Linked DNA regions of Homo sapiens: all the other regions are linked to region 4. The links come from fine-mapping of genetic effects on gene expression. A gene starts in region 4. Each other region holds a variant in brackets. All regions are shown on one strand. Distances are between the middles of the regions. Region 1 has its middle 19 kb from the start of USP29. Region 2 overlaps ZNF749 (zinc finger protein 749). Region 3 has its middle 8.5 kb from the start of ZSCAN1. Region 4 holds the start of ZNF304 (zinc finger protein 304). Region 5 holds the start of LOC124904780 (a long non-coding RNA gene).

What was found. PIP is the estimated chance that this variant, and not a neighbour inherited with it, causes the effect.
Region 1: its variant is fine-mapped to the expression of ZNF304 in cerebellum (GTEx, PIP 0.90).
Region 2: its variant is fine-mapped to the expression of ZNF304 in whole blood (INTERVAL, PIP 0.95).
Region 3: its variant is fine-mapped to the expression of ZNF304 in amygdala (GTEx, PIP 0.93).
Region 5: its variant is fine-mapped to the expression of ZNF304 in whole blood (INTERVAL, PIP above 0.99).

What each region holds. Positions count from the first base shown.
Region 1 is chr19:57,097,771-57,104,034 of GRCh38, reverse strand. No RefSeq gene overlaps it. Among named protein-coding and RNA genes, the nearest start is that of USP29, 19 kb to the left of the region's middle. The variant C/G (reference allele first, on the strand shown) is at 3,173.
Region 2 is chr19:57,441,729-57,447,992 of GRCh38, reverse strand. It overlaps ZNF749 (zinc finger protein 749), which reads right to left. Exons shown (of 3, transcript NM_001023561.4): 2 at 5,982-6,108; 3 at 892-4,702. The coding sequence ends at 2,508. Among named protein-coding and RNA genes, the nearest start is that of ZNF749, 9.5 kb to the right of the region's middle. The variant A/C (reference allele first, on the strand shown) is at 2,533.
Region 3 is chr19:58,022,433-58,028,696 of GRCh38, reverse strand. It overlaps the pseudogene VN2R19P. Among named protein-coding and RNA genes, the nearest start is that of ZSCAN1, 8.5 kb to the left of the region's middle. The variant C/T (reference allele first, on the strand shown) is at 3,584.
Region 4 is chr19:57,348,266-57,353,860 of GRCh38, reverse strand. ZNF304 (zinc finger protein 304) reads right to left here and starts at 2,590. Exons shown (of 3, transcript NM_020657.4): 1 at 2,164-2,590; 2 at 10-136. The coding sequence starts at 2,196. RefSeq lists enhancers at 2,288-2,357, 1,696-2,554, 2,508-2,597, 2,555-3,414.
Region 5 is chr19:57,170,347-57,176,610 of GRCh38, reverse strand. It overlaps LOC124904780 (a long non-coding RNA gene), which reads right to left and starts at 4,367. Exons shown (of 2, transcript XR_007067355.1): 1 at 4,315-4,367. It also overlaps the pseudogene LOC100132009. RefSeq lists an enhancer at 4,340-4,399 and a silencer at 4,731-4,780. The variant T/AAAAGAAT (reference allele first, on the strand shown) is at 2,919.

The DNA of each region.
Region 1 (6,264 bases), 250 kb after region 4:
GTAAAATGCACATGTCCTGATGGGCTTTTAAACTCACCTCCCTATGTGGATGACTTTAGTATTTCTCTGCATAATGGGAGAAATCATTATTATTTAGAGCGGGATGGTGGAAGGGGTCTCAATCAGAGGTGGTTCTTCCCCGAACCGGTGGACCTTTGGCAGTGTCTGGAGGCATTTTTGATGGTCACAGCTGGGTGAGGGGCTGCTCCTGGCCTCTAGTTGGTGAGACCAGAGATGCCGCTTAAGATCCTACAATGCACAGGACAGAACCCCTTCCCCCACCCCCAACAGCAAAGAATCCTCCAACCCCAAATGCTGAGGGTGCCAGGCTGGGTAGTCCTGATTTAGAGTGACGGTGGAGGGAGGGAGCACTGGTGAGCTCACAAGCACTCCAACAGGACGCCGGCTCTGCTCCGTATTCAAGTCCAGCTTTGACAGTTTCAGGAGTTGGGAGGAGTTTGAATCTCGCTCTGACCACATCAAATGATTCCTGGGTGAGGAGAGGCAGTTTGGGTCCGGGATGGGGATATTTAGAACTTTCCGCAGTGCAGGAGATGACGGTGGTGGGTTGGTTTTCAGTGGCGGCAGAGGAGATGGGGGGAAATGAGCAGGTTGATCAGCGTCAAACGGCAGGACGTGGTGACCGATGAGAGGGGTAATGAGAAGGGCGCCATTGGCTTCTGGTCAGTGTAACCAGGTGGATAATGGTGCCATTGGTGGAGATGGGCAACTCTGGAAGGTGAGCAGGTGAGGGGAAGATGTCATAAGCTTCGTTTGGGACAGGTTGAGGCATCTCCCAGAAAACATTAAGTAATTAGCTTGTTATAGGCTCAATTTTGTCCCCCCAAATGCATGTTGAAGTCTTAACTCCCAGCACCTAGAAATGTGACTGTATTTGGTAATAGGGTCTTTAGACGAGTAATTAAGGCAAGACAAGGTCATTAGGGTAGACCCTAATCCAATATGACAGGTTTTTTTTTTTTGAGATGGAGTCTCATTCTTGTCACCCAGGCGCTGGAGTGCAATGGCATGAATTCGGCTCACCGCAACCTCCACCTCCTCAGTTCAAGCGATTCTCTTGCCTCAGCCTCCCGAGTAGCTGGGATTACAGGCACCTGTCCGCATGCCCGGCTAATTTTTGTATTTTTAGTAGAGATGCGGTTTCACCACATTGGCCAAGCTGGTCTCGAACTCCTGACCTCAGGTGATCTGCCTGCCTTGGCCTCCCAAAGTGTTGGGATTGCAGGCGTAAGCCACTGTGCCCAGCCTAAAAATAATTAATCTTTAAAAAGAAAACGAGGGAGATGAAGGCAGGAGCAGGCTGGGGATAAGAGAGCATGGTTTGATTTAGCTGACAGCTTGGCAGAAGGAGAGCCTGTGGCTAAGGTTAGAACCTGAGTTTAATAAAGCTAAAGGAGTCAGCATTACATGATGTCACAGTTGTAGAGACAGTGGGATTCAGTGTGGCCCTCCCATTCAAGGAAGCCAATTTATGGTAGAACATAGCATGTGGAGAGAAACACAAGTGAAAATGCTTAGAAAGAGAGGCAGCCTCATGTAGCAGTTAACACCCTAGAATCTAGGTTCAGGCTTCCTGAGCCTAAATCCTGGCTCTGCCTCACACAGCTGTGTCTCCATGGACTTCACCTTTCGTACTCACTTTTCTCACCTTTGAAATGGGATAATAGCAGCGCCTTCATCATAGATGCTCTGTGAGGATGAAATAAGTTAATGCACGCAAAGTACCTAGAAGGGTGGGTAAATATTTTCTCTAAATGCCCCCAGGAAAGGGCCAGAATAGCAATTTTTTTTGTTCTTTTTTAGATGGAGTCTCGCTCTGTTGCCCAGACTGGAGTGCAGTGGTGTGATCTCGGCTCACTGCAACCTCCACCTCCCAGGTTCAAGTGATTCTCTTGCCTCAGCCTCCTGAGTAGCTGGGATTATAGGCACCTGCCAGCATACCCAGCTAATTTTTTTTTTTGTATTTTTAGTAGAGACAGGGTTTCAGCATGTTGGCTGGGCTGGTCTCGAACCCCTGACCTCGGGTGATCCGCCCACCTTGGCCTCCCAAAGTGCTGGGATTACAGGTGTGAGCCACCGCGCCTGGCCCAGAACAGCAAGTATTTGAGGCTTTGCAGGCCACACAGTCTACTTAACTCTGCTGATGTAACACAAAGCTGCCACCAGGTGATGTCAATGAAGGCGTGACCATGGGCCAACACAGCTTTGTTTATGGAAGCCAAGATTTGAATTTCATATAATTTGCACATATTATGAAATATCATTTTCTTTTCTTTGTTTCTCTTCTTTTTTCTGTTCTCTTTCTCTCTCTTTTTTCTTTTCTCTCTTTTTTGAATAAAGAAAGGGTCTTGTTCTGTCACCCAGGCTGGAATGCAGTGGTGCAACCATAGCTCACTGAAGCCTTGATCTCCTGGGCTTAAATGACCCTCTCACCTCAGCTTCCTGAGTAGCTGGGACCATAGGTAAGTGCCAACACACCCAGTTAATTTTTTAACTTTTTTTTTTTTTAAGACATAGTTTTGCTCTTGTTGCCCGGGCTGGAGTGCAATGGCGCCATCTTGGCTCACTGCAAACTCTGCCTCCCGAGTTCAAGCTATTCTCCTGCCTCAGCCTCCCGAAAGTAGCTGGGATTATAGGCATTCACCACCACGCCCAGCTAACTTTTGTATTTTTAGTAGAGACGGGGTTTCATCATGTTGGCCAGGCTGGTCTTGAACTCCTGACCTCAGGTGATCCGCCCACCCCGGCCTCCCAAAGTGCTGGGATTACACGCCTAAGCCACCGCACCCGGCCAATTTTTTAACTTTTTGTAGAGATGTGGGGGGTCTCACTATGTTGCCTAGGCTGGTCTTGAACTCCTGGGCTCAAACGATTCTCCTGCCTCGACCTCCCAAAGAGTTAGGATTACAGGTGTGAGCCACTGTGCCTGGCCTGATTTATTTTCAACAATTTGAACATATAAAATCCATGCTTAACCTGAGGGCCGTACAGAAGCAAGCGCTAGTCCATATTTGATTCTGCCAAACGCTGCTCTAACTCTGCAGCTGGCTTTCAGTAAGACACATGGAAGTGTTAGATAAAGAGAAAAAAAAAAAAAACAGAAAAGTTCTGCCAGGGAACCCAAGACATTAAATTCCCCTGTTGACTGGGG[C/G]GAGGGACTTTAAGCTGTTCCCTTTACACCACAGGCTCCAAAAGGGAGTAGTCTGAAGCCTGGACACACTTATCCACAGACTCATTTGATTTGGTCAGCATGGTCTTTAGGAAGGAATAAATACATGACCTTCTTAAACATAAAATTTGGAAGATTTCACTTAAAGGAATCCAGATTTCTGGGTTTTGTGACCCATGTTCCTATGCGGCAGCCACAGGTTGGAGCAGAAGAGCAGGGAGCCCCTTTATTTATTTATTTATTTATTTTTATTTTATTAATTTTTTATTTTTTTGAGACGGAATCTCGCTCTGTCGCCCAGGCTGGAGTGCAGTGGGGCGATCTTGGCTCACCGCAACCTCCGCCTCCCAGGTTCAAGCGACTCTCCAGCCTCAGCCTCCAGAGTAGCTGGGATTACAGGCATGAACCACTACACCCGGCTACTTTTTGTATTTTTAGTAGAGACGGGGTTTCACCATGTTGGCCAGGATGGTCTTGAACTCCTGACCTCAGGTGATCCACCCGCCTCAGCCTCCCAAAGTGCTGGGATGGCAGGTGTGAGCCACTGCGCCCGGCCAGGGAGCCCCTTTAGATGGGATGGGGAGGGACCTCCGATCAGGGCTGCCCACTCACTCCTCCTCCCTCTGCTTCCCTTCCCTCTTCCATCTCCCTCCCCCATCCCCCCCATCCTTCATTCATCTACCTGAGGTGCCTGACCCTGGTAGACAAGGAAGATATTAAAAATGTTTAACAAGGGTGGGGCAGTAGCCAATCCTGATGAAGCCCTGACCAATGATACACGAGCCCCAGCTGGGAGCTATTGGTACCATCTGTAGCTCCTGTGGACATTGACATTTAAATTGATTTAACCTTTTTTTTATTTTTTATTTTTTGAGACGAAGGCTCACTCTGCCACCCAGGCTGGAGATCTCGGCTCACTGCAACCTCTGCTTCCCAGGTTCAAGCGATTCTCCTGCCTCAGCCTCCCAAGTAGCTGGGGTTACAGGCGCACACCACCATGCCCGGCAAATTTTTGTATTTTTAGTAGAGATGGTGTTTCACCATGTTGGCCAGGCTGGTCTTGAACTCCTGGCCTCAAGTGATACACCCTCCCTCGACTTCCCAAAGTGCTGGGATTACGGTCCTGAGCCACCGCGTCCGGCCAGACTTATAATTTTAAAAAGGAAAAACCAGGGGCACCCCACCGCCTGGGGATCGAGGGGAGCCCAGCATAGGGAGGGAGAGGGAGCCAGGGTTATAACGTCCACATTCATACAACCTCAGCCTTGACCACTACGTGCGGATCATGGCGGTAGCGACCCGGCAGGAAACACAGCGAGCGAGCTGATTTGTGATCATGGTCGGTGCTCCGAAGAACAGACAACGAGGCGTGGAGCGCGTGCCGGGTGCGATCCTGGAAGGCTCCTCAGAGGAGGTGACATCTCGCTGGGCCTGGCGGCCCTGACGTCCAGCGGCGATGGCGGTCCATGGCCACCAGGTGGCGCCGCGAGAACGTGGCTGAAGCAGCTAGGCCGCGTTCCTGCGATCTGACTGTGCAGAGAGCTGTGGCTCCAGGTTTATCTCAAAGCATTTTTCTCAGCAGATGAACTTAGGGAGGGAGGCAGGAGAGCAAATTCCCCTCACTGCCCATGTGTCAGTTTTATTGTACCTTAACGGTAGTCAGTGCTGCAGCAGCCGAGAGCCCGGGCCCCCAAATTTGGGTTTACGGGCTGGCTCCAACCCAAACCAGCGTGTGTGTCCCTGCCATGGGCGTTTTATGTATTTATTATGTATTTGTTTTTCTATTGAGACAGGGTCTCACTCTGTGGCTCAGGCTGGAGTACAGTGGCGCTGTCTTGGCTCACTGCAGCCTCCCCAGCTTGAGCAATCCTCCTGCCTCAGCCTCCCGAGTAGCTGGGACTACAGGCCTGCACCACCACACCCAGCTAATTTTTGTATTTTTTGTAGAGAAGGGTTTTTGCCATGATGCCCAGGCTGGTCTTGAACTCCTGGGCTCAAGTGATCTGCTCACCTCTGCCTCCCAAAATGCTGGGATTATAGATAGGCATGAGCCACCACACTTGGCAATTATTTATTTATTTTTATTTTTACGGTTTTTTAGAGTCAGGGTCTCACTCGTTGCCGAGTCTGGAGTGCAGTGGCAAAATCTTGGCTCACTGCAACCTCTGCCTCTTGGGTTCAAGCAATTATCATGCCTCAGTCTCCTGAGTAGCTGTGACTACAGGTGCTCACCACCACGCCTGGCTAATTTTTGTATTTTTTAGTAGAGATGGGGTTTCACCATGTTGGCCAGGCTGGTCTCGAACTCCTGACCTCAAGTGATCCACCTGCCTCAGCCTCCAAAAGTGCTGGTATTACAGGTGTTAGCCACCGTGCCTGGCCAGTTCACTAATATTGAGATAAATCATACTCGTGTAAGACGCTACTAACAGGGGAAGCTGGGTGCAGGAACAAGGAAAACTTTCTATTCTCTTTGCAACTTTTCGCCAAATCTAAGTCGATTCTAAAATAAAAGTTGATTCTTTTTTATTGTTTATCTGAAATCCATATTTAACCAGGCAATTTGTATTTTTATTTATTAAATTGGGCAACCCCAGTGCAGAGCTAAGGGAGACAGGTGGATTCTCTAACCCAGACACACGTTTTTGAGCCATCAGCGTCTGTGATCCAAGCCGGGAGCCGGCATGAGATCCCGAGTGAGGGAGAGTGATGGAGACCATGGCGTCTGGAGCCGGAGATGCAGGGAGGTGAGCGAGAGCTGTCCGAGCAGTGGCTGAGGGTGTTCACTGCTGGCCGACTTAGTCTCTCCACACCTCAGTACTCTTCTCTGTAAAATGGACACTAGAATCACGCCTGCCTCACGGGCTTTTGGGAAATGCAATGCCTTTGATGGAGTATTTATTGCTGCATCAGGTGCACAGGACGCAGACAGAGTTAACTTACTCCCGAGTTCATCCCATCCAATTTCTTCATGGACGTGTGTCCACAGATACACATACAGACATGTGCCCAGGGAGACATAAGTAGAATATATGATGCAAATTTATGTTCATAATTATAATTTAATGTTCAAA
Region 2 (6,264 bases), 94 kb before region 4:
AGGCCGAGATGGGCGGATCATGAGGTCAGGAGTTGGAGACCAGCCTGGCCAACATAGTGAAACCCCATCTCTACTAAAAATACAAAAAATTAGCCGGGCATGCTGGTGGGCACCTGTAATCCTAGCTACTCGGGAGGCTGAGGCAGGAGAATCGCTTGTACCCGGGAGGCGGAGGTTGCAGTGAGCCAAGATCACACCACTACACACCAGCCCAGGCAACAGTGCAAGACTCTGTCTCAAAAAAAAAATAAAGCCAGGCGCGGTGGCTCATGCCTGTCATCCCAGCACTCTGGGAGGCTGAGGCGGGCGAATCATGAGGTCAGGAGTTCGAGACCAGCCTGGCCAACATAGTGAAACGCCATCTCTACTAAAAATACAAAAAATTAGCTGAGCGTGGTGGCAGGCACCTGTAATCCTAGCTACTCGGGAGGCTGAAGCAGGAGAATCACTTGAACCCAGGAGGCAGAGGTTGCAGTGAGCCGAGATTGTGCCACTGCACTCCAGCCTGGCAACAGTGCGAGACTCTGTCTCAAAAAAAAAAAAAAAAAAAAAGTGTGAGGCAAGGCTTCAGAAAATATTCCAGAATATTGTTATCATAGGAGATAACAACTCCCTGTTATTGAGCCTGAAAACCTTCTAGTGGGACAAGATGTGGAGGCAAAAGACAGTGATATTAATGATCCTCACCCTCTGTAGGCCTTGACTAATGTGTGTGTCTGTGTCTTCATTTTTAACTTATTTTTTACGAAGTTAAAAAATTAAATAGAAAAAGTTTATAGAATATAAAGGAGTACTTCTATACAGGCTGTATAATGTGTTTGTGTTTTAAGCTATTATTACAAAAGAGTCAAAAAGCTTTTTAAAATTTTAAAAGTTCATGAAGTAAAAACGTTACAGTAGACTAAGGTTAATTTATTACTAAAGAAAAAATTAATTTAGAGTAGCCTAAGTGTACAATGTTTATAACATCTACAATAGGGTACAGTAATGTCCTAGAGCTTCACATTCACTCACAACTCACTCCCTGACTCAACCAGAGGGGTCCCGCAAGCTTCGTTCATGTTAGTGCCCTATAAAGTTTTTACCATTTTTCATACATTTTTACAGTACCTTTTGGAAACTTAGATATGTTTAGATACACATTTACTTATCATTGTGTTTCAATTACCTACAATATTCAATACTGTAACATGCTGTTAAGGTTTATATCTGAGGCGCAATGGACCATATCATATAGCCTAGGTGCGTAATAGGCTGTGCCCTTCAGGTTTGTGTAAGTACACTCTTTGTTCACACAATGACAAAATCACCTTAAGATGATTACTCAGAACACAGTCCTCTTGTTAGGCGACACATGACTACAATGGGATTTTATTCGGCCTTTAAAAAAGATGAAAATCATAAGCTATGCTACAACATGGATAAACCTTGAAGACATTTAGGGAAATAAGCCTCAAAATAAGTCACAAAAGACTAAAACTTAAGTTTCCTCATATGAGATATTTATAGTAAAATTCATACAGTAGTATTGTCAGGGGCTGGTTGGCGTAGGGAATGAGGAAGAGGAGTAGTTTAAAGCAGCGGTCCCCAACCTCTTTGGCACCAGGGACTGGTTTCATGGAAGCCAATTTTTCCACGCATCAGGGACAGAGGAGGGGGCAGACAGTTTCAGAATAAAACTGTCCCACCTCAGATCATCAGGTATTAGTTAGATTCTCATAAGGAGCACACAACCTAGATCCCTCACAGGCACAGTTCACAATAGGGCTCAGGCTGCTATGAGAATCTAATGCTGCTCATCTGACAGGAGGTGAAGCTCAGGTAGTGATGCTGGCCCGGTTCCTAACAGGCCACAGACTGGTACCAGTTTGCAGCCTGGGGGTTGTGGACCCCTGGTTTAAAGGGTATAATGTTTTAGTTTCATTAAGTTGAAAAAACTTCTGGATATTAATTGACAACAATGCGAATGACTTAACACTACTGAACAGTACAGTTAAATATGGGTTAAGATGGTAGATTTTAAGTTACCTGTAATTTGCCACAATTATAATTTTTTTCTTTTTGAGACAGAGTCTCGCCCTGTCACCCAGGCTGGAGTGCAATGGAACAATCTCAGTTCACTGCAACCTCCGCCTCCCAGGTTCAAGTGATGCTCCCTGCCTCAGTCCCCTGAATAGCTGGGATTACAGGCACCTGCCACCATGCCCAGCTAATTTTTGTATTTTTAGTAGAGATGGGGCTTCACCATGTTGGCCCGGCTGGTCTCAAACTCCTGACCTCAGGTGATCCACCCACCTCTGCCTCCCAAAGTGCTGGGATTACAGGCGTGAGCCACCACGCCTGGACATAAATGTTTTTAATGTAGTTCCCAGCAGGAAATCCTCGCAGATTTCCATCTGAACTCTTTCAACATTAGATTTACATATATTAATAGGTTCTTGGTCCGATGTGAACCTTTTGGTGCTGAATGAGGTGACAGTTTTGGTGACTTTCCTGCATTCACTCCACTAAGGCCTTTTTCCAGTATGAATT[A/C]TCTGATGTTTAATGAGGCTGGAGTTGTATTTAAACACTTTGCTGGATTCACCACACTCATAAGACCTTTCTCCAGTGTGAGTTTTTTGGCGCTGACCAGTATTACATTTGTTGAAGTCTTTCCCACATTCCCTTAACTTAAAAGGACTTTCTCCAGTGTGAGACTGCTGATGTATAATAAGGCTCGATTTAGTCCTAAACAATTCCCTACATTTACTGCACTCATGAGGCTTCTCCCCAGTGCAAACTTTATGATGTTTAATGAATGTAGAGCGGTATCTAAGAAACTTCCCACAGTTGCTGCATTCATAAGGCTTTTCTCCAGTATGAACTCTCTGATGAATAATGAGTTTGTAGCTATCTCTAAAAAATTTCCCACATTCACTACACTCATAAGGTCTTTCTCCAGTGTGAACTTTCTGATGTCTACTCAGTGTACAGCGATATCTAAAGAATTTCCCACATTTGCTGCATTTATAAGGCTTTTCTCCAGTGTGAATTCTCTGATGAATAACAAGTTTGTAGCTGTCCAAAAAGAATTTCCCACATTCATTGCATTCATAACGCCGTTCTCCAGTCTGGATTTTCTGGTGACCATCTAGATGAGCCTGTGTAAGGAAGGCCTTCCCACATTCACTACACACATAAGGCCTTGGCCTGAGGTCAATCCTCTTGTGTTGAATGAGGTCAGACCTTTTTGAAAATGCATCAGTGTGGATTTTCTCATGCTGAACTAGGTGGGACTTTCTAACAAAGGCCTTCGCACATTGAGTGCATTCATAAGGCCGTTCTCCAGTATGGATTTTCTGGTGACCAACCAGATGAGCCTGTGTAAGGAAGGCCTTCCCACATTCACTGCATGTATAAGGCCTTGGCCTAATGTCAATCCTCTTGTGTTGAATGAGGTCAGACCTTTTTGAAAATGCATCAGTGTGGATTTTCTGGTGCTGAACTAGGTGGGACTTTCTAACAAAGGCCTTCTCACATTCAGTGCACTCATAAGGCCGTTCTCCAGTATGAATTTTCAGATGCTGAACAACATTATGTTTGAGGCTAAAGGCTTTCCCACATTCGCTACACTTATAAAGCCTTTTGCCAGCATGAACTCTCTGGTGCATATTGAGTGTGGAGCGGTGACTAAAGAATTTTCCACATATGCTGCATTCAAAAGGCCTTTCTCCAGTATGAACTCTCTGATGTCTACCGAGTGTGAAGCTGTCCATAAACAATTTCCCACATTCACTGCACTCGTAACGCCTCTCCCCAGTGTGAACTTTCTGATGTCTGATGAGTTTGGAGTTATACATAAAAAACTTCCCACACTTGTTGCATTCATAGGGCTGTTCTCCAGTATGGGTTTTCTGGTGACCAACCAGATGAGCCTGTGTAAGAAAGGCCTTCCCACACTGGGTGCATTCATAAGGTGTTGGTCTACTGAGAATCTCCTGATGTTCAATGGGGTCAGACCTTTTTGAAAGAAAGCCTTCACTGTGAATTTTCTGGTGCTGAACTAGGTTGGACTTTCTAATAAAGGTCTTTCCATATTCAGTGCCCTCATAAGGCCTTTCTCCAGCATGATTTTGCTGATATTTAATAAGGTTGGAGTTGTACCTAAACAATTCCCCACATTCACTGAACTCATAAGGCCTCTCCCCATTATGGGTTTTTTGGTGCTCAAACAGCCCATGTTGGTGGCAAAAGTCTTTCCCACCTTGGCTGGAGTTGAAATCATTCTGTTCACCTTGAAAGGCTTCCCCATCCTGGGTATCCCTGTACAGCTTCCACCCACTGTTTAAGACCTGTTGCTGGAGAAGGTCTGAGCTGGCAGTAAAATCCTTGCCACCCTGCGTGCATGTGAAGTTCCTCTCTCCCACGTGAGCACTGTGGTTCACAAATGAAGGCCTCCACTCATCACTTCTGGTGAGCTTCTCTCTAATCTGCTCCTTTTGGTGCAGGTCATGCTCTGCTGCACATGTGTACAGCCCTTGCTCAGGGTGTGTTCCATCGTGCTCAGCCAGGTGCAGAATGTCCTTCAGAATTGAGCTACACATCTTGCAGGGCTGGGCCTTCAGGGTGGACAAAGCTGGCTTTGGAATTGTGACCTGTAACACTCTTACAGAAACACACTGCTTGGAAGGTACCTCCTCATCCTTGGCTCCATGCCAACAACCTGTAAGAACAGAAATGCTGGTGAAGTGCACGTGAACTCCGGAGGGAGGAGACAGCCCCATCACAAATGTCTGTGAGACACACCCACAAATGAGGGCACAGGACTGGTCACAGGCAAGGAAATAAGGCCAGTGAGAGGAAGGCCCAGTGTTCAGAGGTGGGCCTGTGAAGTGTGTGTAGTGGGGGAATCCTGGTGGTAAGGACACAAGGGAGAAGTACCATGCAGGGAGGGCAGGTGGGGTCTCCAACTCACTCCTCTATAAATGGCTTTCAACAGGCCATGACGGTTGTGTCCAGATCCAGAGAGATCTGATTGTGTGAGAGCGAGTATTCATGGACTACTGAAGGATACACGCAGACCTCATAACACCTAAAGTACAGGTCATACATTAGACAGCACTGCAAAGGGAGAGGTGGAAGAGAATGGTGGAGAGATGAAGGCTGGAGAGGAGGGGTCAGAGGTGGAAGCCAGGGGTCAGAAGTCAGAGTAAAAATAACAACAGGGAAGGAAAGGAAGAGTGACGAGTGGCCAGTGGCCCTGCATCAAACAATAGTGGTCACAAGGTAAGTTCTCAATGTGATTTGAACCCAGCCTTGATATCACATCCTTTCCCAGCTTTCACCCACCAGGGCCAAGTCCTTCTGAGTGTCTCTTGCCATTAATAGAGGACTATCCACTCTGCCAGGCACCCAGAGACCTCCCCCTTGCTCAAGGTGAGCAACTATCTAGCTGCGGCATAAGTCCAGCTACGGGAAAGGCAGGGAAAGGGAGGGGACAGCATGTACACAGAGCAATAAACCCAGGACATGCTGCATTCTAAAGCTACCAGAACACCCAGTAGAGCGTCCTGCAGAAATAACTTCACAATCCTCACAAGTGGTGACCAGGGAGGTGCCTGAAATTCCTAGCACAGACACTGTCTCCAAGTATGTCAGCAAGGGGAACAGGGAAACCCTTGGACAGAGGTTTCACACATTTGGACAGAGTAATCAAACCAGGGACAGGCACCGCCATTAGGATATCTTAAAGAAACCTGAAGATTTCTGACTTCCGAGCCTTATCTTGTAAAGTTTCAGAGCAACAGAAGCTGGGGCTGCTTAAGGGGAGGTGGTACAGTATACACAGCCCAGCTCTGGCTGCCTTATCACATTTGCCAGGAAACCAGGAGAGGACAGGACGTAGCACTCACAATCTGGTGTGGGAAAGACAGAGTTGTCATGGAAAAGAGCAAAAAAACAGCACCCAGCACAAGACACCAGAGTAGGTATGAAGGCCTTACCTACTGATGACAAAAGCGCAAAGTTCTCCAACATCACATTGCTGTGCAGGTGTCTCTGAGCATCATTAAGGATCCCCCATTCCTCTTGGGAGAAATATATGGCCACATCCTCAAAGACCATACAATCCTGCCAAAATTATGACACTTCAGTCTATGAACAACTTCTTATTCTGTGTTTCCTTAGATCTGTATTTATCTACTTAAAATCTAAGAATTGGAGGGCCAAACTAACAGCCAATGTTTTTACATTTCCCTTGCGATCCAGATCCCATATGCTGAACCA
Region 3 (6,264 bases), 670 kb before region 4:
GTGTCCTTCTAAAGCCTCAGGCAGCAGCTGATTCTCAGAATCCCTCCTGGATGGCCGGGACTCATCCTGTCTGTCTGGATGCTGGTCAGCCTGTCTCACCGGCCCTGCCTTAGCACCTCACTCCGTTTTTCCTTCTTGCTTTCTGTCTGTGTCTGAAGCATGGGTTGCTTGTCTCCTCATTGTGCTGCAGCGACTGCACAGGTGAGGCAGAGATTCTCCCCTCTCTTGTCCACCGCCAACCCTTGGCGCTTAGAGCAGCGCCAGGCACAGGTAAGTGTGTTTGTTGAATGAACAAGTGTTTGTGGAATGAACAAATCTCTTCATGAGTTGATCAGCCCAGGGAATTTCTCTTTACCTGTGTGTGCCATCACCCATTTCTGTCCCAGGTTCCCAAACTGTCTCTGCGGACAGTTCTTCACATAGTCCCTCCGGTGATTTTTTTCTTTTTTAAAAAATGAATATGTTTATCATTTTACTTTATTTTATTTTTGGAGACAGGGTCTGGCTCTGCTGCCCAGGCTGGAGTGCAGTGGCTCAATCATAGCTCACTACAGCCTTGACCTCCCAGCTCAAGTGATCCTCCCACCTCAGCTTCTGAGTAGCTGGCACCACAGATGCATGAGACCAGACTCGGCTAATTTTTTAATTTTTTATTTACTTTTCATTTTCTATAGAGACAGAGTCTCACGTTGTGACCTAGGCTGGTTTCTAACTCCTGGGTTCAAACAATCCTCCCGCCTCAGCCTCCCAAAGTGCTGGGACTACAGGCTAGAGCCACCATGGCTGGCCTGTTTACCTTTATTTAAACATTGCCACAATGTTTTCCAAAGCAACCATTTCATTCTGCATTCTCACCAGACATACACAAGACTTCCAATCACTCCACTTGCCATCACTTGATGTTGCCAGGTTATTTTTTCTAATCAATGAATAATAATTGTATATATTTATGGGGTACAATATGATGTCTTGATATATGTATACATTATGGAATGATTAAATTGGGCTAATCAACATATCCATATCCTCACATCCTTATCATTTTTTGCAATGTGAACATTTAAGATATGATCTTTTTGCAGTTTTGAAATATACATTAATTATTGATAACTACAGTTTCCATGCTGTGCAATAGATCTGGAAACCTATTCCTCCTTGTCTAACTGAAACTTGGAGCCCTTTGACCAACATGTCCTACCCCCCGCCCCCCACCCCTTTTTGGCTGTTCTGCCCATTTTGCTATGCACATGTCATGATCAGTGCAAGGTCAGAGATAACCAGGTCCACACGTTCGTGTCTTTCCGCAATGTCAAGTGTTTACTGATGTTATTTCTTTTCTTTTCTTTTCCTTTTTTTGAGACAAAGTCTCGCTCTTGCCCCCAGGCTGGAGTGCGATGGTGTGATCTTTGCTCACTGCAACCTCCACCTCCCAGGTTCAAGCGATTCTCTTGCCTCAGCCTTCTGAGTAGCTGGGATTACAGGTACCCTCCACCATGCTCAGCTAATTTTTGAATTTTTAGTAGAGACGGGGTTTCACCATGTTGGCCAGGCTTGTCTCGAACTCCTGACCTCAGGTGATCCGCCCGTCTTGGCCTCCTAAAGTGCTGGGATTACAGGCGTGAGCCACCGCACCCGGCCTACTGATGTTATTTCAATCACAAAAGCCATGAGCTACATGGAGTTCCCAAGGAGCCAATTATCCCTTGTGCTTCTCATTCACTTGGTAGTCAGAGCCACAGGCACGGAGGCTCAAGCCACTCCACAAGCAGTTAATATTGCAAACCATACATAATAGTATACTTAATATAGAAATGTTATAGGTTAAACATTCCACAACCAACAAAGTGACATTTAACATCAAGAGAAAAAAGAGATAGGAGAAAGAGTTAAGGAACCAGTTCAGAGGCAGCGAAGAAGACAAAAGGCATCCTGGTCTGGGCCAGGCGGTGGGTGGGTGGTCTGTGAGGTCGGTGGTCTGCCATCCTGCAAGGAAGTCTTTGAGGTGGCAGAGCCTTTGGCCACAGAGGCTGAGTTATCATGAGTGACTGCAAAACAGTGTCAGTTAAAACAGCCATTTTGAGCTCCTGAAGGCCTAATTTTCTTTTTCTTTTATTATTATTTTTTAAGACAAGAGTTTTGCTCTGTCACCCGGGCTGGTGTGCAATGGCACGATCTCGGCTCACTGCAACCTCTGCCTCCCGGGTTCTTGTGATTCTCCTGCCTCAGCCTCCCGAGTAGCTGGGATTACAGGTGCACACCACCATGCCCGGCTAATTTTTTTGTATTTTTATTAGAGATGGGGTTTCACTACATTGGCCAGGCTGATTTTGAACTCCTGACCTCAAGTGATCCTCCTGCCTTGACCTCCCAAAGTGCTGGGATTACAGGCATGAGCCACCGTGCCCGAGAAGGCCTAATCTTTTATAGTCACCTAGTAGTCCCCTGGTGAGAACTGGCAGTGGAAGAGTGTGCTTGTGTCCTTACCTGGTTAGGTGCAGTCTTTTTTTTTTGTTGTTTAATAAACAGAACATCCTATCCTTGATGGCAGAGTGTCCTATGAAATATAAAATGGAGTCTTTTGCTAAGATGTAGTTATGTCAAGTCTGATGTATAGGCTACATCGTGCACAAGCGCTTGTGGAGACTTGTGGCCTCATCCCCTTTGAGTGTGCATAAGCCATAGCCTCTGCAGCTACAGCATGCGGTAAGCCTGGGCTTCTCCTTCCCTCAGCGTTTCCACCTGGGGCTACTGGGAAGCCCAAGGATTCACATTTGCCATGGAGGAGATCAACAGGGACGCCCACCTGCTCCCCAGCCTCAGGCTGGGCTTCTCCATCCGGAACTCTGGGTGAGAGGTGAAACCGGTTGGGCTTCCAGGTAGGGTGGTGACTTGGAGAACTTTTCTGTCTAGCTAAAGGATTGTAAGTGCACCAATCAGCACTCTGTGTCTAGCTAAAGGTTTGTAAACGCACCAATCAGCACTCAATCAAAACGGACCAATCAGCTCTCTGTAAAACGGACCAATCAGTGCTCTGTAAAATGGACCAATCAGCAGGATGTGGGTGGGGCCAGATAAGGGAATAAAAGCAGGCCACCCGAGCCGGCGGTGGCAGTCTGTTGGGCTTTCCTTCCAGTTTGTGGAAGTTTGTTGTTTTGCTGTTTGCGATAAATCCTGCTGATGCTCTTTCTGTGGGTCTATACTACCTTTATGAGCTGTTATACTAACTGCGAAGGTCTGTGGCTTCACTTCTGAAGCCAGCAAGACCACGAATCCAACGGGAGGAATGAACAACTCCAGATAAGAACTGTAGTAACACTCGCCGTGAGGGTCCGCAGCTTCATTGTTGAAGTCAGCTACACCAAGAACCCACTGGAAGGAACCAATTCTGGACACAGGGGGACTTCGTGCACGCAGCACTCCATGAGACCATGAGCTTTCTCACCGGGCAGGAGGAGCCCATCCCCAGCTACACGTCTGGGCCCAGCGCTCTCGGAGCTGCTTTGGAGAAACATGCTTGGCGTTGTCTATGCCAATGGCCAGGCTCCTGGGACTCTACAGGTTTCTCCAGGTAAGTACTCAGAGC[C/T]GTACCCTCCCCTAATATTTGCTGTGGTATTGGCCACAATGGGGGTGACGCTGAGGCCCTACCACGGAGGGTCCTGGCTCCCCGCCAATGCCCTACAGCCTGACGCCATCCTCCCCCTCACCATGACCTCTCTGTAAGAGAATGGTGATCGCTGCTGCATTCACCAGGACACTGAGATTGAGGGAACTAGCAGTGACACGTTGCAGCTCACCCAGCACTGGGGCGCTGAAGCTGGGTTTTGAGTCCAGGCCATAGGGCTTGTGCCGCCAGCCTCCACACGGCCCCGCCCCGCTGGGGCCTCCTGACTCTCAGGCCCTCGGGTGTCATTCCCATAATAGTAGCTATGTCTAGAGGCAACTTTTTTTTTCTGTTTATTTTATGTATGTATGTGGGTGTATTGAGATGGAGTCTTGCTGTTTCCCAGGGTGGAGTGCAGTGGCACGATCTCAGCTCACTGCAATCTCCGCCTCCCGGGTTCAAGCGATTCTCCTGCCTCAGCCTCCCGAGTAGCTGGGTTTCCAGGCGCCCCCTACCACCTCCCGGCTAATTTTTGTATTTTTAGTAGAGACGGTGTTTCCCCACGTTGGCCAGGATGGTCTGGAACTTCTGTCCTTAGGTGATCTGCCCACCTCGGCCCCACGAAGTGCTGGGATCACAGGTGTGAGCCACTGTGCTGGGGCATTTTAATTTTTTTAGTGATGGGGTCTCTGTCGCTCAGGCTGGAGTGCAGTGGCATGATCACGGCTCACTGCAGCCTCGATTTGCTAGGCTCAAGCAGTCCTCCGGCCTGAGATATAATCCACATACCGCGTAACTCACTCATGGCTTTTGGTATGTTCGAGTTGTGTAGCCATCCCCACAGCCAATTTGAGAACATTTTCATCACCCCACAAGGAAACCCCAACCCCTTTAGCCAGCAGTTTCCATCAGCTCCACCTGCCGGCAACCACTAATGTATGTTTTGTCTGTACAGATTTGCTTTTTCTGGATACTTCCTATAAACGGAATCATACGCTGTGTGGTCCTTTGTGACTGGCTTTTCTCACTAAATATATTTTCAAGGTTCATCCACGTTGCAGCCTGTGTCAGAGCGTCGTTCCCTTCTATTGATTAATTTTCCATCATAGGCTGGGTATAGTGGCCCTGTGGGAGGCCAAGGTGGGAGGATTGCTTGATGTCAAGAGGTCAAGACCAGCCTGGGCAACATAGGGAGACTCCATTTCTACAGGAAAAAAAAAAAAAAATTAGTGGCATGCAGCTGTAGTCCTGGGTACTCAGAAGGCTGAGGCAGGAGAATCACTTGAGTCGGGGGGCGGGGGGGGTGGGTCAAGGGTGCAGTGAGCTATAATCGTACCACTATAATCCAGCTTGGGCAACAGTGCAAGACCCTGTCTTAAAAATCCGTTGTATGAATAGAGCATGTCGTGTGTATCCATTTATTAGTTGATGTATATTTGAACTGTTTCCATTTTGGGCCTACTGTGAATAGGGCTGCTATGAACATTTATGTATCCGTTTTTGTGTGTATGTTCAGTGTGTTTTCAATTCTCTTGGTTGTATGGGTAGAATTTCTGGGCCAAATGTTCATGCTATGATTAACTATCTGAGGAGCTGCTGGAGTGTTTTCCAAAGCAGCGCACCATTTTACATTCCCACCAGCATTGTATGACGAGTCCAATTTAATAGATTCATGTTCCACTGAGAAACCTGTAAATTTGGGTTTACAGGATTCCTCTGCCCTTGAACGCCTTAAATTTGCAAAGTTTGCTGGCCTGCTGGGGGAGAGGCCTGCCTTCCTACCTGTGAAGCAGGGGGCCCTGTAAATCACAGAACAGGTTGGAAGGGTTTTCCTGGGGCGGTGTGAATGTTGGGGCCACAAAGAAAGCTCACCCCTTCACCCCTTACTCCTTCAGGGTGGGTTGTCATGTATTGGGGAGTTTATTCTGAGGTGTGACACTTCAGGTATGGGCTTGATCGTACGATCAATTTAGTCCAGTCCTATCCTGATAAAAAGGAGAGTTGATTTCTATAGAACCTCTGCAAATAACCGCATAGCTATTCTAGGTGCTTTTAACCCCAAAGTATCAAGCCAGGCTGATTTTTTTCCAAGAATTCACCTTGATTACTTCCCACTTGGATTCTTACATAAAATGCTTCTGAACTAGAAGTTTCTATATGTAGACTTTCTTTTCTTTCCTTTTAATTCAAGCACATTTAAAGGATTAGAGACTCAATTTTTTTTTTCCTTTTTGAATTTTTTTGAGACGAAGTCTGACTCTTGTCGCCCAGGCTGGAGTGCGGTGGTGCGATCTCGGCTCACTGCAACCTCTGCCCCCTGGGTTCAAGCAATTCTCCTGTCTCAGCCTCCCAAGTAGCTGGGACCACAGGTGCCCGCCGCCATGACCGGCTAATTTTTGTATTTTTAGTAGAGATGGGGTTTCACTATGTTGCCCAGTCTGGTCTCAAACTCCTGACCTCAGGTGATCCACCCGCCTCAGCCTCCCAAAGTGCTGGAATTACAGGCGTGAGACACTGCGCCTGGCCTTTTTTAAAACAAAACAAAACAAAACAAAACAAAACTCTCCCTGTGTTGCCCAGGCTGGCCTGCAACTCCTGGGCTTGTGATCCACCTCAGCCTCCCAGTGTTGGGTTTACAGGCATGAGCCACTGCGTGCAGCTGC
Region 4 (5,595 bases):
CAGACTTACCTAGTGTAGCCACAAGTGCAAAGTTCTCCAGCATCACATCACGGTACAGGAATCTCTGTGCCTCCTCAAGGAGTTCCCACTCCTCCCGAGAGAAGTACACGAACACATCCTCGAAGGTCACACAACTCTGCCATGATAAGTACAGCTGAGTCCACAGTCAGCATCTCTCCCCAGAACCCCCTCCTCCCCAGTCTACACACTCACACACCCACTCTCTAGTCCCTCGCCTCCCCAGCCTCCCAACTAAGAGGAGATAACAGACCTTGGCACCACTAGTGTCTGCTCTCTCCTCATGTCCCTCTCACCACTGTGTCCAGCCCAGAGCAGAACCAGGCAAGTGTGCAGACAGATGCTGTCTCAACTCTGGGTCTGGCATGAAGGGTCCCAAATACTCGCCTACCAACCAGTTCTCCTGGTGTTGTCCAGACGATGCCTCTAAACACAACCAAACTTCAGCTCCATCTTCTCCCATGAGCTGCCAATACTAGAGTCTTAAGGGCATCAGTTCACACTCCTCCCAACGTGCTCATTACTCTTTGGACTACACCTTCCTCACATCTGAGATCCCCACCGCCACTGGCCCATGCCATATGCACCTCCATGACATCCCTCATCCCCCATGCCACTCTGCAAGCAGTGTCCAGGAAGCGCTCGCGTCTTCACACTATCCACCACTGCCGTCCAGGTGCCTAAGCAACAGACCCAGTTTTCTCTCAGTGTCCAGTTTCAACTTTCTTACTGAATAACAGCATTACCACCATGATTTGAAGATACCCCATCCCACTCCACACACTGGCCACCATTTTTTTCAACTTCTTCAACAGAACCCTTCCCCAGAACTAAAAACCTGTGTGTTTTCCTGAGGCCTCAACTAAGATGACAACTGAGACCTCTTAACCTAAACATGACCAAAGCCTAACTCCTGATATAACCACTAAAAATCATACCTGCTGCCAACTTCTCTATCTCAGTTGATGGCATTTTCATAATTTTACCAGCTACAGCAAAAACAAACCAACCTTAGGGTCATCCACGACTCTCCTCTCTTTCACCTTTCGCATCAAAAAATCCAATCACCCTACTTTAAAAAACAGAAAATTTACCAACTTCTCTCACCTCCACAGCCACACCTCTAGACCAGACACCATCAACACTACTGCAGTAGCTGCTCCCTCATGCTCACAGTCTGTTCTCAACCTGAAAGCCAGAGAGAGCATGTTAAAATCTGAGTCAGATCATCTCCCTCCTCTGCTCCAAATCTCCCACGACTTTTACCACACTCAAGACACCTCGGCCAGCCATTCCTGCCTAACTCCTTCCTCTGATACCTGTTTCCAACAAAGGTAATTAAGACCTGAGATTCCCTGAGCGCTCCAAACTCAATCCTACAAGCATTTGAGCGTACCTGTTCCTAGGTCTGATATACTTTTGCAGTACTCATCCCATTGGTCGCCAGGTGGGGACTTCTCCACATAACTCCATACAACTCATGGCCTGGATTCAGGACACTAAACTAGAAATGACCTCCATTCACTGCCCCCTGTCTCAAGTGAAGACAGTCATGTGAAGAATCCCAGGATATCATCACTATGTCTCATCAGAGAATCTGGTCAGCCTTCCTTATAAAATACATACAAAACCCAAAACCCATACATTCTCTAACCTCTGCTGCCACCACTCTGGCCCAGACCATCAACGCTCACCTGGACTATTTCAGTAGACTTCATCTTGATCTCCCCGTCTACCCTATAATCCCTAGTCTACCCACTCTGCAGCCAGAGGGAGCCTTTTAAGAACTGCGTCAGAGGACCTCCCTTCTCTGTACCAAACCTTGCATGACTCCCAGCACCCTCAGAAGAGAGGACCAGCTCCTCGGGCGGCCATTCCAGGCCTACCTCTGACCCCCTAGTCCCTGTTCTCACCAGGCACAGAGAGTTCCCGGAACTCCCCAAACTCATTCTCCTCTCCATGCATGCATTTGTACGAACTGCCCCTGCGCCTTCGAGTCCGTTCCACACCTTATGCCACTGATGAGGGGAGCGGAACCCCTCCACATAATGCGACGGAGTGAGCACCCTGAAGTGCGCGATGAGAGCGAACATCCCAGGACACACCAACCAGGCCGGGGTGCGCTTGAGGGATGCCCCCACTCACCTGAACCCGGTCCATCAGCACCGCCGCTGCCATGAGAAGCGGATGAACAGTCTGTGCCCTGTGGGCTCAGCCGAAACCCCACGCCTCCACCGCGCTGGACGCCCTCGGGCTGAGTGTAGCACTCCAAGTCTCAATCTACCCGGTGTAAAAACGCTCACAAGACTAAGGCGGCTGCTTCTGGGGGAGACAAGGACAAGAGGACGTGTGTGGAGGCCTCGGTAAGAGCCCAGCCCCGGCAGACACCTCCGCGAGAGGCCGCCCGTCCCACGACAGGGGTCATGGATTGTAACAAAAGCGCGAAGGAAGGTCCTGCAGTCTTCACTGTCTTTCTTTGCTAGGTTCCACGAGAGCCGCGTAGAAAGCCGACCCGATCTCTAGAACTCAGCCTTCACAACCAGAATGCACGGACCGGGCATAGGAAAAATACGTCACGACGGCGACGCCAGAAGTCTCGCCCCTGCAGCCCAGAGCAGCAGGAAACGCCCAGTTTCTGGGCTGTCATTGGCTGCACGCCGGCTAACAATGAGCTGGGCACAGATTTCTGGGTAACGTAGTTTGTACCCTGCATCCAACCAGGCAACGAGCGCCTTTCGGGTTCTCCCGGATGTCTGCCAAGAGGCGTCGTGCAGGGAGGGGGAGAAAAGACTGGGAAAACGATATCTCGGAGGCCACAGCTGCTTTTAAAGGGTATGCACCCTGATTTCCATGGCCACCTGGGACAATGCCACGCCACTGAAGTCGCCAGCAAGGGACCCATTCTTCAATCCTGCTTCTGAGGCCCTGGGAAACCTGCTTCACCTCTCTCAGATTTGGGGATTGAAACGTATTAATAAATTGAACGTTGTCTGTATTTCGTTTGTGGGCCTTTTTGTAAAACATTGAATGTCCTTCTAATTTTTCTAACATATAAAGAAAAGAGATGTAATTAGCTACCTTTCTGCTGGCTGTACAGGAAGCATGGTGCCCGTATCTGCTTCTGGTGAGGCCACAGGGAACTTTTATTCATGGCGAAAAGTGAAGGAGGAACTTACATGTAACATGACGAAAACATGAGCCTCTTCTAATTCATTGCTTCCCAATTTGATATGTAGTTTTACAGCATCAGCTTCACTATGAACTTAAAAAACCTGTGAATTCTTGGACCCAACCTATACCTTCTGATAAACTCTGGGGATGGGACCCTAGCTGAAGTTCAAGAACTGGAGGTCTTTTAAAGTCATTAGCCAAAAACAAAACAAAACAAAAACAAACAAAAAAAAATCAGTAAGATGAAAAACACTACAACCAACCTCATTAGGAATATGGGAAGTGAGGTAAAAAGTACTTAACACCAGGCCTGGCACATCGTGCTAAATACATACAAGCTGTTATCAGTCTTCCTCAACACAAGGTTCTCACATACACTGCTTTAGGAAGATAAATCAAAGATCCACCTTTTCAGGATCAGTGTGATTTTGAAAAAAAAAGAAAAAAGTACAATTATTCCCTCACTCATCAAATAGCATCATAGATAATAGTTATAATTTTTTTTTGAGACAGAGTTTCACTCTTGTTGCCCAGGCTTAAGTGCAATGGCACGATCTCAGCTCACTGCAACCTCTCCCTCCCAGGTTCAAGCGATTCTCCTGCCTCGGCCTCCCGAGTAGCTGGGATTACAAGCATCCGCCACCATGCCCGGCTAATTTTGTATTTTTAGTAGAGATGGGGTTTCTCCGTGTTGGTCAGGCTGGTCTCGAACTCCTGACCTCAGGTGATCCAACTGCCTCAGTCTTCCAAAGTGCTGGGATTACAGGTGGGAGCCCCTAATGGTTATAATTTTTGCACAAAAGCACACCAATATATCAATAGACTCATTTAATTGAAAAAAATCACATGCAAGAGGGTTTCATAAACTACAGGTAGGTCTATCGTCCAGAAGACACATTCTTATAGGCTGTATGATTCAAAACACAGAACTATCAAGACTAATTGCTCTTCATAATTTTTAACTCCACTGTCCACTTAAGAGTCACTGTAGTTAAAATTTTATAACCTGGTTTATTTTATGAGATGACATAGAAATAATTCATATCTTTGAGAAAAAATATATATACACACATACACACAGCATTTATATATATATACACATGTAGTTTATATACACACATACATAATTATATATATGTATAATATAAATTATCTGTCTCCACTCAAAGCCAATATAAATTTAGGTGTCAGGAACACATGGAATAACATACGGAGTCAGTTACAGATATAACTGCCAGCAGATTTCTATGCACGACAAATGCACTGGCTAAGAAAAACTGAAATAAGACTATTTGAAGCCCAAAATGAGAAATTTAATGGATAAAAATAACTGGCATAAAATAACACTTTTAAGATCCTTCTTAAGGTTGAAGGAAAGTGATCCCAGGTGATGGTCTGTGATGATAGAAGAAATGAGGATCTGAGAGAGGAGTGCATCTATGGATTAATGAGACCACTCATTATCTGTATAAAATATTAATACTGTTGGGCGCGGTGGCTCACGCCTGTAATCTCAGCACTTTGGGAGGCCAAGGCAGGCGGATCACGAGCTCAGGAGTTCGAGACCAGCCTGTCCAACATGGTGAAACCCTGTTTCTACTAAAAATACAAAAATTAGCCAGGCGTGGTGGTGGGCGCCTGTAATCCCAGCTACTCAGAAGGCTGAGGCAGGAGAATCACTTGAACCCGGGAAGCGGAGGTTGCAGTGAGCCAAGACTGTGCCACTGCACTCCAGCCTAGGCAACAGAGTGAGACTGCATCTCAAAATAAATAAATAAATAAAAATTAAAATAAAAAATAAAATAAAATATTAATACTTCTGGAAACAGAATGGTGGAATTACCATGCATATCCTCAATAGTATATAAACTCATATGGGCAAATTAACTAACATATAAGTTTCTTATATTTCTTGAGGAGAGCAAATACATTAACTCTATAATGTATTAAATAACTGTTTTAAAGCTTAAACATTAACTGAATCAGAGTATATATCTTACAAATTTAAAGAAAATGTAAATGTAAAGAAAACATTACAAAAAATAAAGTACACACAATAAGTAAGGCAAAGAAAAGCACACACACAACCAGAGGATGTATATAAACCCAAATATATCAGCTATCTCATGAAATGAGTATGGAATAAATTCTTAAATTAGCACTTAGTAAGTTTTGATGTGTTAAAAATTTCCAAAAGGCCAGGCACAGAGGCTCATGCCTATAATTCCTGCAATGTGGGAGGCTGAAGCAAGAGAACTGCTTGAGGTCAGGAATTCTATTAATAGATCAGCCTGAGCCACGTAACAAGGCCCCATCTCTACCAAAAAAAAAAAAAAAAAAAAAAAAAAAGTAATAGCAGGGTGTGGTGGCACAAGCCTGTAATCCCAGCTACTCAGGAGGCTGAGC
Region 5 (6,264 bases), 180 kb after region 4:
CTGCACTCCAGCGTGTGTGACAGAGCGAGACTCTCTCTCTCAAAAAAAAAAAAAAAAAAAAAAAAAAAAGCCATGTATTTGGTACGCAAGTTCTAGATTTCTGAGAGATGAAGATACTCTCATGGCTGACTGAAAAAGCTTATCATCATCCAGGTCCTTTGGGGGAAAATCTCTTTCCCATTAATTCATTCATTATATCATAGATGATGAAAGATGATCCCTTTGAAGGGTTTCCAGGCTGATAAAACAGCTGAATAATATGGTGATATGTTGCAAGCGAGGGTTCTAGTCTGATGGCTTTCATTTCACATAGAATCTGTAAGGCTGGCAATCTTGCAAGTACATAAAATCTTCGGAGACATTTCAGAATGGTATTAAAAGTCTGTAGATTTGGTTTCACCTTCTGTGCAACCATTTGTCTTAGCAGCTCCAGTATATTATTCCATTCTTCCTCAAATTTCTCATTTATCACCAATACTGTTGCTTCAATCACTGCATTAAATGTGTATACATCAGCACAGAGTCTGTTGTTTAGTAACTCAGTGTACAGGTTTAATGCCTGCTCATAAGCTTGATGCTTCACCATTCCTCGGATCACTGTGCAATAGGAATGTGCATTTTTCCCTGGCATTAGAGAAAACATTCTCTCAGCGTTGTTTTGTGCTCACCAGGTAACTCCAAATTGATCACCAGCTTTCCTCCTAGACCTCTTATTATTTTCCTCTTCCAATTCTTCTGACTGTTCAATTTGTTGAAACTGATAATCAGTTGAGGGCTCCTGGTCACCATAGTAACACAATAAATCCAAGAGACTATATGTTGTTACAAGAGACACAGTGGTTCCTGCTTGCAAAAGCTCATCAAACATGTCCACAGAGACTTTGACTTTTCTGAGCTTGATTCATTCCTTGAGAGTGGCTTCACTTATGTCTTTGATCTGAGGTTCAAAGTACTCAGGCATTAAACACAGTGTATGAGGTTCAGCTATGTCTTTCTGAAAATATTTGGAGTATGAATTAATAATGAACTTGGCCGTATTCTCCCCGGATTTCTTTGCCAGTAAAAATGAACGAGATTCTGAAGAGGATGTTGGTATGAGGTAAGGATTATCTTGAAACACGCAAGGTACAGCCGTGGGAACCCTGTTTACTGTGGATGCAAGAGCCTGAAGAACGGCTACTTTATCCCAAGTTTTCTTTTTTGGAATTACTACTTCTTCAATCCCTGTTATATCAGTTCCTTCAATATTTGAGAGGGTTGCACTTCCAGAATAAAATCTCAGCTGTGTGCTTGTTCACATAGACCTGCTGGCTGACCCGTCAGTGGCTGGTCAAGCCTGCTGCAGAGCCCCAGCCAGCGAACAGCAGCTACAGCCGCCATCTTTGACTTCTCTGCCAAGTGCTCCCACTCTTACACAATCATTCAACATCCCATTTCTGACACCACATCTAAAGCAAAAAAACTAACTGTTCTTTTCTTTCAACTCACTCAAAACAGAACATTTGTGTGACCAAATGAGTGGAGGTTTTTTCATCCATCCCAGTTTTCCAGGAGACACCAGTAGGTGTCCTATAATTCAAATCTGACACTATCTACTTGAAGGAAGTGTCACATCCCATAGGTTGAGGACTAAGTCCCACAGAATTGCCCTTCACTTCAGATGCCAGTCACAATCACCTGGTTGTGGCCTGTGCTTTTGACCAACTACATTAGAATTGGGGTTCCCACAACCCCCTAGAACTCATTTCTAGAATGGCTCATAGAACTCGGGGAAACACTTTGCTTATGTTTACTGTTTTATAATAAAAGATATCACAAAGGATACAAACAAACAGTCAGAAAAGATACACAGGGCAAGGTATGTGAGAAGAGGTGTGGAGCTTCCATGCCCTCTCCAGGAACACTGAATGTGTTCAGCAATCTGGAAAGCTAAAATCTTGTTGTCCAAGAGTTTTTATAGAGCTTCATGTCAAGCCATCCCACCCTTTCCACTTCACAGAGGTTGGTGGGTAGGACTGAAAGTTCCAACTCTCTAATCTTTCTGGTGACCAGCTTCATCTTGAGGCTGTCTAGGGTCTCCACCCTAAGCCATCTCATTGGTATAAACTGAGATGTGATCAAAAAGTCATTAAAAATAACAAAAGACATTTCAACACACAGGAAATTCCAAGGGTTTCAGGAGCTCTGTGATAGAAATAAGAAAGTCAAGCCTACTTGAGTTTGGAGAGGCTAATGCTGGGTAGTGTGAGCACCAATACAATGAGATAAATGGATTATAATGCCGCAGATAAAAATCATCCACTCCATGTGGCTTCTAAAATAATTAACTAACTTAAAATGGATGGGATGGGATGGGCCGGGCGCGGTGGCTCACGCCTGTAATCTCAGCACTTTGGGAGGCTGAGAGGGGTGGATCACCTGAGGTGGGCCGGGCGCGGTGGCTCACGCCTGTAATCTCAACACTTTGGGAGGCCGAGGGGGGTGGATCACCTGAGGTGGGCCCGGCGTGGTGGCTCACGCCTGTAATCTCAACACTTTGGGAGGCTGAGAGGGGTGGATCACCTGAGGTGGGCCGGGCGCGGTGGCTCACGCCTGTAATCTCAACACTTTGGGAGGCCGAGGGGGGTGGATCACCTGAGGTCAGTAGTTTGAGACCAGCCTGGCCAACATGGTGAAACCCCATCTCTACTAAAAAAAAACAAAAACAAAAACAAAAAAAAAACCCAAAAAAAACAAAATTAGCTGGGTGTGGTAGCACACGCCTGTAGTCTCAGCTACTTGGGAAGCTGAGACAGGAGAATCACTTGAAATCGGGAGGCGGAGGCTGCAGTGAGCCTAGATCGCGCAACTGCACTCCAGCCCGGATGACAAGAGTGAGACTCTTTCTCAAAAACAAAAAAAAAGAAAAGAAAAAAGAA[T/AAAAGAAT]GGGATGGGTAAAGTTCTTTACAGGAGTGTCAACTTATAAGTATAAAATGTAAAGAAGTAATAGAAATAGAATCCCCACAAGCAGTGATCACAGATTCAGGGAAGAATCATCAACAGAGGCTAAAACTAGAGGCTGAAGTGGGGGGACTTAATATTATTCAGACATTGCAAAGAATTGACCCACAGATTACTTATTAATTACAAAGAAGAAAGAGTGGAGAGATCTAGTAGATACCATCTTAACCAAGTAGTCAAAATCCAAATCTCCCAAATGGACAAACTGTATACTTAGGTGCCTCCTTATAGGACATAACATCATTGGCAATTCTGGGGCAAAATAAATGTGTTCATTGAATTATTGTTGGAACTTTGGAAAAGGTATACATTTTTCAAAATAAATAACTTGTCCTTCAAATCTCCAATATACTGAATACCTGATATTGGGCAAATTACACGTCTTCCTGGGCCTCAGTTTCCTCACATTAAAAATATGGAGATAATGTTATTACTTGCCTGCTCAATTGTAAGGTTTACAAAAAGAAAATACGTAGTTAATAACTCAGGGCTTGGTAAATGTTTGCTATTTGGAATAAACTGATGGGAGGCTACATGCAATTTCTACTTACCCCTTTAGCATGAAGATACTAAAAAAAAATTGTTTTAATGTTAATACTGGTCAGCTGTGCCTGAATTCCTTTTTTTTTTTTTTTTTTTTTTGAGGCGTAGTCTTGCTCTGGTGCTGAGGCTGGAGTGGCAGTGGCGCGATCTCGGCTCACTGCAACCTCCACCTCCCGGGTTAAAGCAATTCTCCTGCCTCAGCCTCCTGAGTAGTTGGGATACAGGCGCCCGCCACCACGCCTGGCTAATTTTTGTATTTTTAGTAGAGACGGGGTTTCTCCATGTTGGCCAGGCTGGTCTCGAACTCCTGACCTCATGTGATCCACCCACCTCGGCCTCCGAAAGTGCTGGGATTACAGGCATGAGCCACCGCGCCCGACCTGTGCCTGAATTTCAAAGAGAGGAGGGTAAAATGAGGCATGTCCCATCTCCTTCCTATCGCGGCCGAACTAGTGTTTCCGGTTAAGTTTGCCATGCTCTTAGCTGAGAGGAGGGGTCCATTCAGTTGGCTGGGAGCTTAGAATTTGATTTTTAGTTTACAGCTCTGTGATTCACCCGGGAGAGATGCAGAGTTAGGACAACAGGAGAGAAGCGAACCCGGAGAGCAACGCCTCCCAGCACTGCCTGACATCAACCGCTCTGGCAGGGCGACCACGCGGCCGGGGCCCTCCGGAAAGCAGCCTTAATCCCCGCCCGACCGCAGGTCTCGGGCCACGCAGCGCTAACAGCCGCGGGAGGGGGACCCAAACGTCAGCGGTCCCCAAATACAGGACCCTACCTTGCTCTGGCATCTCACCGGCCCTCCCTGCTGCCACTGAGCGCCGCGGAGAGGACGAGCCCGGCGCGCCCCGCCCCCTCGCGCGCCCCGCCCCCTCGCGCGCCCCGCCCCCTCGCGCGCCCCGCCCCCTCGCGCGCCCCGCCCCCTCGCGCGCCCCGCCCCCTCGCGCGCCCCGCCCCCTCGCGCGCCCCGCCCCCTCGCGCGCCCCGCCCCCTCGCGCGCCCCCGCCCCCTCGCACGCCCCCGCCCCCTCGCACGCCCCGCCCCCTCGCGGCCCCCGCCCCCCTCGCGGCCCGCGGCCCCCGCCCCCCGGACCCCCGCTCGCGCTCCCCGGACCCCAGCTCGCGGCCCCGGACCCCCGCTCGCGCCCCCCGGCCCGGGGACGCATTTCCCTTGCCTGCACCCAAGCCGGTAAAAGGGCAGACGTGGCAGCTCAAGGCGCCTGCGCCCAGCAGGTTGCAGGCCCCACTCTCTCAGGGAGACCAACATACTTGCGGAGCCGCACAGAGAGGTGAAGCTTAAAAGAGGTACCGGTGATGATATCCGGGCTTTTGAGGGCACGGAATTGAAAACTGGAGTGAAACATACAAATAAAAGGAAATAAAAGCTCATCAAGTTTTCTTTGTGTTGCTGATGGTGTAGCACAGGTCAGATACTCGCCCTGCAGAAAAGTCAGGTCAGGAATTTAGGATGCAGGATGACTTCTGATTCTTCCCCAGAGGCACTACCTGTGTGCACTGTTGGCCTCCCTTCTCCACGACTTCACCTGCATTTTTATGTACAATTTTAAAGGTTCTCGATATGGAATTGGAAATGGAATCCTGTGTCTTTTGGTAAACATTTACTAAAAGGCATCACATCTTGTTCTCCGTTTTCAGGAAGTTCACTCCTCCTTGTCAGTACTTTGACTAGACAATTAAAATAAACATAGATCCAATTTAGAAGAATGCTATAAAGATACAAAAAACATAAAAACAAAATATTATTTTAAAATACTGAATTAAGAAAACACTTGCAGGACATAGGACAAATGCAGCATAATATTTAAGTCTCAAAGAAATGTTCTACCTAAGAAAGAAGCAAAGAATCTGAAAGCTAATAAAAGAAAAATAAAATATGGCAAATACATTTGATTAAAAGTGTTCAAGCACGCTAGCGCTCAAATTAAAAATAAAACAATGAGATATTATTTCCAGCTCTAAGATTTATAATGATTGAAAATTTGATGGCTGGGCATGGTAGCTCATGCATTTACTGTCAGAGCACTTTTGGAGCCCTAGGGGGTAAGATCGCTTGAGCCCAGGAGTCGGAGGCTGCAGTGAGCCATGGTTGCACCACTGCATTCCAGCCTGGGCGACAGAGCAAGACCCTCTCAAAACAAATAAATAAATAAATACAATTTAAAAAAGAAAGAAAAATATTTTAAATAACTAAACTGAAACAGGTCAGGGTCACTGGTCTCATTGTCTAAGGTGTTATCTAAGCTCGTGGTCTCATGACCAAGAAAATTAAGGAGCGTGGACACAAACAGTGAGGTTGGATCAAAAATAGAAGCAGAGAGTAAAATGGTGGTTGCCGGGGGCTTGAGTGAAGGGGAAATGGGGAAATGTTGGTCAAGAAGTACAAATTTTCAGTTTTGCAAGATAAGTTTTGGGGATTTAAGGTACATAGTGACGTTATTTGACATGTACATTGTGACATTATGTGACATAGTTAACAAATTAGAAAAAAAAATTTTAAATTGGATGATCAGAAATGAAAAAAACAATACTACTTGACATTTGCTAAGAGGATAGATTTTTATTTTTTGCGACAAGGATAGACCTTAAGTGTTCTTCTGCATGGGGGAGAAAAGGATATTTTTTTTAAAAAGTGTTCTGACCGCACACACACACACACACAAAGGGTATAATTTGAGGTGGTTAATACATCAATCAGCTTGATTTGATTA